Regions from separate parts of the Homo sapiens genome. Here region 2 is linked to region 1. The links come from fine-mapping of genetic effects on gene expression. A gene starts in region 1. The other region holds a variant in brackets. All regions are shown on one strand. Distances are between the middles of the regions. Region 1 holds the start of CALML4 (calmodulin like 4). Region 2 has its middle 54 kb from the start of RNU6-1.

Region 1 (3,024 bases):
TCATTATCACCGTTAGACCTGGACAAGAGGGCACTGCCCCGGGCCCTGTGTTTTAAAAGTCCCTGCTCCTGCCCTGGCCCTCCTCTTGGGATAAAGAGTTCCAGGGTTCTACGTGGAGGTGCCCACCTGGAGCTCACAATTCCTGCCCCTCTGGACCAAGCTCAGAATACCCAGAACTCTGGAACTCCTGCCCAGGTAACCCTAACCCCACTTGGCTGGGCTCTCAGGACCCTACCCTGGATCACAAGGGCCCAAGGTGCCTGTAATTTTATCTCCAGTGGTCAGCGAAGGACTCACTGAGAAGGCGATGTTTCAGCAAAGACCTGGAGGAATGGGATGCCTCGGGGGACTCTCAGGCCCATTGACGTCCACTGTTGGGACAGGTTTCAGGGTCACAACCTCAAGCAGCAGCTGGCTGTGCCTCCTGGGCCTCTCCTGCCAGGTGCAGGGGGGCTGCAGCCATGAGGCTCCCCTGGCTCAGGTCTGGGCCCCCAAGTTCTTTGTAACGCAACTCTTTGCTCTTGGCCTTCTGGAAATAGAACCCTGCACGGTGTGAAACTGAAGCCTGGTCGAGGGCTGGCAGAGTAGGGGACCCAGGGAATAAAGTGCTCACGCCCAAACCAGGCTTGATGCCAGGGCAAAGGGGGCTCAGTGGACCCTCCATTTTACAGATAGGGAGACTGAGGCGCAGAGAGTAGACGCATCCTGCCAGAGAGTGCAGACCTGGCCTCTGTTCTGTCTCAATTACAAAGCCCCTCCTCTTTCCCTGCTGCCAGCCATACCTTTAATGGTCTCTCTCTCCATCCCCAGTCCCCTCAGTCCCCAAATCCAACTGGTCAGGTTCTGGAGGGAAACCTAGTAAGTTCTGTCTTAGCGCCCTGGCTTGTAAGTCACACTGACAAGTATAAAGCCACATGTCTATTTTGGAGGCTTACCCCCAACCCCCACCCCGCCAACAGCAGCCTCCCCGCAGCTCTTGGCCCTGGGTGGGCCCAGCTCTCCCACAGCCACCTTCCTTCCCACCAAGAAAACATGAGCAGAGCAAATTGCCTAATGAGACCCATATTTTGCTGAGTTGCTAATCAAAGAACAAACCCAACCTACCATTAATTTGGTCTTGGGAAAGAAACTTGGCCTGCAGCAGAGAAAGGAAAACAGTCAGGGGAGGGCTCCACCTGAGGTTCACGCCCCCAGCCCTGGCCAGGCCGACACAGACCCTCACACTCACCATTCTGGGGCCTCGGCTGCTACCCGTGGGCTTGCTGCTCCCAGAACCGCGTTCAGTTCCCTTTCCTCCAGCCTCAAGTCTAAAGTCTGCCAAGCTGGGTGGAGGCCCGGGTAATAAATGCTCGGCTGCCATGGAGACTGGGCCCGACGCCACCAGGGTCAGATTCCAGCTTCCTGAGCACAGCTCATGACCCGCCACCTGGGCAGGTTGGATTTTTGAGGAAATGGGGCTGCAGAAGGCTCTCCCTGGGCTCAGAGTCTCTGCCTCCAGAAGCCGAAGCAAAGGGACAAATGCCAGTGTTTCTTCCCGGGAGCCCTGGACTCCAGGAAGGGGTCTTCTCTCTCTCTCCTGGGACTCGGCGGGGATGCCATCAGGCCCCTACTAGAGTTGGACACTTTACACCCCGGGTCGTATTGAAGGCTCCTCACACACCATCTTGTAGGAGGAAGGGAACCCTTCCAAGACGGCCTAACTCAGAGATGGGCACCGGGGCTCGCAGGCTTGGGGCTCGGTATTGCAGGGATACAAGCTTCGGTGCTCTCAGGCTGGGATTCAGTCCTCCCCGTCTGCTGACTTGCTGAGTGACTGGCGAATCATTCTACCTCAGTCTGTGCCTCAGTTTCCTCACCAGCTGAATTACAGGGCAGCTGGCAAAATCAAGTGGCCAGCGCACAGCCGGTTCCCATCCTGTGCCAGTTCAGTTCCCACCTTCTGAGGACTTTAAGGGTGGTGGAGGGGCCTGAGCCGGGTCTCCAGCCCCACCACAGGCTCCTCGGGGGCTTGGAGTGAGGCCTCTTAGTGCCGGTTACCCTGGCCAGGAAGGCTCCCCTTTTCTTCCTTCCCTTCCTCTCTCCACCCTCAGCCCCACCCCTTCCGCAGAAGCTGCTGACGCTCCCAAGTCTTCAGGAGTTCGTGCTGCTCCCCTCCCCCACATAGGAGGAAATGGGGGCAGGGTGTGAGGCCTCCCCAGCTTCTTCCCCTTGAGATCCCATTTCCCTGTTTGGGGCGTGAGGCTTTTGTCCACAGCTGAGTCTATGAGGCTCTACAAGTAGGTGTGGCTGCACAGGTGTGCCCTACACAAAGGCCCCCAGCCCAGGTGCGAGTGGTTGCTGGCCAGGGGCTGCACTGCCAATAGGAAGGGGGGCATTGTGCCACTTTGCACACAGGCGCATAGACGGGAGGCGCTGCCTGTGCCCCACTCTCCCCTCCCCGCTCCTTTCCTGACCGCCTCTGTGTGGAAAGTGTGCTTTTCTCCCAAATCACATCCCCAGAATCGCTTTACACCTGTTTCTAGACCCAGAGAATTTTAGCTGGGGACTCCGACTCCTCCCTGTCAGAGTTTGAGGCTCCCCCTCCCAAACCCCATGGCAGGGATAAGAGGAGGGAAGGCTGCCTCTGTGCAGAGGATGGAGAGAAGGACATCAAGGAAAGTCACTTGGGACTCTGGAAGCCTGAAGGCGGCCAGGCCAACATGCTCCCTCTGAATCCCCTTGCCTGTGGGAAGGGGCTCCAGAAGAGATGAGGTGCCTCCTTGGAGTTAGGCCAGTGTGTGCTGGGGTGCCCCGGCCAACTCCCTCCTTATGTGTGTAGGTGTCTCCGGGGGTGACGCACAGATGGAAAACACCAGCGTGGGGCAATGGCTGCGTGAGGGTTCACGATACAGCAACTCACCATGCTGTAGGGCGCACCGTGTGTGCTACACCTCAGCACGAAAGGGAGAAAAGACAAAAAACACCTCTAACACCACTTGGGGCTGTGACTGTATTTACTTCATTCTTGAATCCCGCGTCCCCGTG
Region 2 (2,500 bases), 310 kb before region 1:
AGGTAATTTTCATTTTTCCTATATAAATATCTAGTTGACCTAGTACCATGTACTGAAAAGACTTTCCTTTCCCTACTGCAGTACAGTGCCACCTTTGTGGTATATCATATGACAACAAGTTCATGTGTCTGATTCTGGGCTTTCAATCTGTTCTGTGGTCTATTTGTTTGTTCTTGTTCCAATACTACACTGTTTTAATTACCATGGCTTCATGAGTCTTGTTAATTGTTTGTAACTCCTCCCATTTTGTTCGTCTTCTTTAATAATGTCTTGATTATTTTAGGCTCTCTGAATTTTCAGATACATTTTAGAATCAGTTTGAAAATCTTGGCTTGGCGTGGAGGCTCATGCCTGTAATCCCAGCACGTTGGGAGGGTGAGGCGGGAAGATTGCTTGAACCCAGGAGATTGAGACCAGCCTGGGCAACATAGTGACACCCCATCTCTACAAAAAATATAACAATTAGCCAGGTGTGGTGGCACATGCCTGTGGTCCCAGCTACTCAGGAGGCTGAGGTGGGAGGATTACATGAGCCTGAAGGTCGAGGTTGCAATGAGCTGTGATTGGGCCACTGCACTCCAGCCTGGGTGACAGGGCAAGACCCTGTCTCAAAAAAGAAAAAAGAAAAAAAGAAAATCTCCACAATAACAGCCTATTAGGATTGGCACTGGGGTTGCATTGGCCCTGTAAATTGATTGGGGGAGAACTGACCTCTTTATGTTATTCAGTAGCCAATCCATGAATATCCAGTCCATAAACATCCTACATCTTTTTGTGTAGAAATGTAAGTGATGTTTGTAAATTGATTTTATACCTAGCGTCCTTGCTAAATTCACTTATTAATTCTAATAATGACAGTTTTGTTTCTTTCTATCCAGGCCTCATATCTCTCACATATATATATATATATATATATATATATATATATATATATATATATATATTTTTTTTTTTTTTTTTTTTTTTTTTTTTTGCCTTATTATACTAGCTATGACCTCTGGTACAATGTCTTAAGTAGCTTTATTCATGGTCGCAAAGGGAACACTTTCAACATTTCACTGGTAAGATTGATATTTGGAAGCCGAGGATAGCCTGTAGTCTCAGC[T/C]ACTTGCAGCCACTTGGGAGGGTGAGATGGGAGAATTGCTTGAGCCCAGGAAGCAAAGGTTGCAGTGAGCCAAGATTGCCCTACTGTGCTCCAGCCTGGGGGACAGAGCGAGACAAAACAAAAAATTTATTGGCTGACATTTTTCTTACTTCCTGAGGTATATGCTTAGGTAATTGATTTTCAGCCTTTCTTGTTTTGGGATATATGTGTTTATAAGTCTATACATTTCTCTCTAAGCACAGGAAGTTCTGATATGTCATACTTTCATTATCATTCATCTCAAAATATTTTCTGATTTCCACCATAACTTGTTCTTTAACCATCCTGGTTCAATTAAGAAGCATTCTTAGGCCATGCGTAGTGGCTCATGCCTATAATCCCAGCACTTTGGGAGGCCAAGAATCACTTGAAGCCAGGAGTTTGAGACCAATCTGGTCAACATGGCGAAACCCTGTCTCCACCAAAAATACAAAAATTAGCTGGATGTGGTGGTGCAGCCTGTAATCCTAGCTACTCAGGAGGCTGAGGAATGAGGACTGTTTGAACCTGGAAGGCGGAGGTTGCAGTGAGCCGGGATTGCACCACTGCACTCCAGCCTGGGCCACAGAGCGAGACTCTGTCTCAAAAAAAAAAAAAAAGAAGAAGAAGCATTCTTAGTTTCCAGATACATGAGAGTATTCCAATTTCCTTTTTGTTATTAGTTTCTAGCTTAATTGAAGTGTAGTCAAATTTACTCCTTATGATTTCAATGTTTTAGAGGTTGTTAAGACTTATTTTATTGCGTAGCATGTAGTAAATTTTAATAAATGTTCTTTGTATTCAATTACATGATTCCATCTTGTTTATTGGGTGCAGTGTTCTACAGTTGTCAATAAGGTCAAGTTTGCTAATCATATGCAAATTTTCTATATCCTTCTAACTTTTGACAGCTTGTTCTATCACTTAAGGAGAGAAGTGTTTTAAAGTAAGCCTGTGTGAATATGTCTTTTCTCCTTTTTGTTTCTATTTTTGCTTTATGTACTTTGAGGCTAAATATTGAGTATAAATAAAGTTAGATGTACTTTATCTTTCTAGAATCAAATTTTTTTTCATTATGGAATGTTCCTCTTTATTTAGTAATGCTTTTTTGCTTTGAAGACAATTTTGTCAGTTTTAACTTTCAAACTTTCTGTATTCTTATATCTTACAGTTGTTTCTTGTAAACATACAGTAGGGCTTTGTTGTTTTTTATATAGCCTGACAATCTTTGTCATTTAATTGGAGCATTTAGTCCATTTACATTTAATATAATGTAAATGGTCATTGATTTTTCATCACTTTTTGTTAGTTATTATTTTTATTTAATTCTAACATTAATTATTTGCTTGCAACTTGTTCCTCTGTTTTATGTTCTTC

Evidence for each region. PIP is the estimated chance that this variant, and not a neighbour inherited with it, causes the effect.
Region 2: its variant is fine-mapped to the expression of CALML4 in whole blood (TOPMed, PIP above 0.99).

The regions. Positions count from the first base shown.
Region 1 is chr15:68,204,017-68,207,040 of GRCh38, forward strand. CALML4 (calmodulin like 4) reads right to left here and starts at 1,316. Exons shown (of 5, transcript NM_033429.3): 1 at 1,229-1,316; 2 at 1,105-1,135. The coding sequence starts at 1,231. CLN6 (CLN6 transmembrane ER protein) reads right to left here. Exons shown (of 7, transcript NM_017882.3): 7 at 2,976-3,024. RefSeq lists an enhancer at 2,015-2,309.
Region 2 is chr15:67,893,090-67,895,589 of GRCh38, forward strand. No RefSeq gene overlaps it. Among named protein-coding and RNA genes, the nearest start is that of RNU6-1, 54 kb to the left of the region's middle. The variant T/C (reference allele first, on the strand shown) is at 1,106.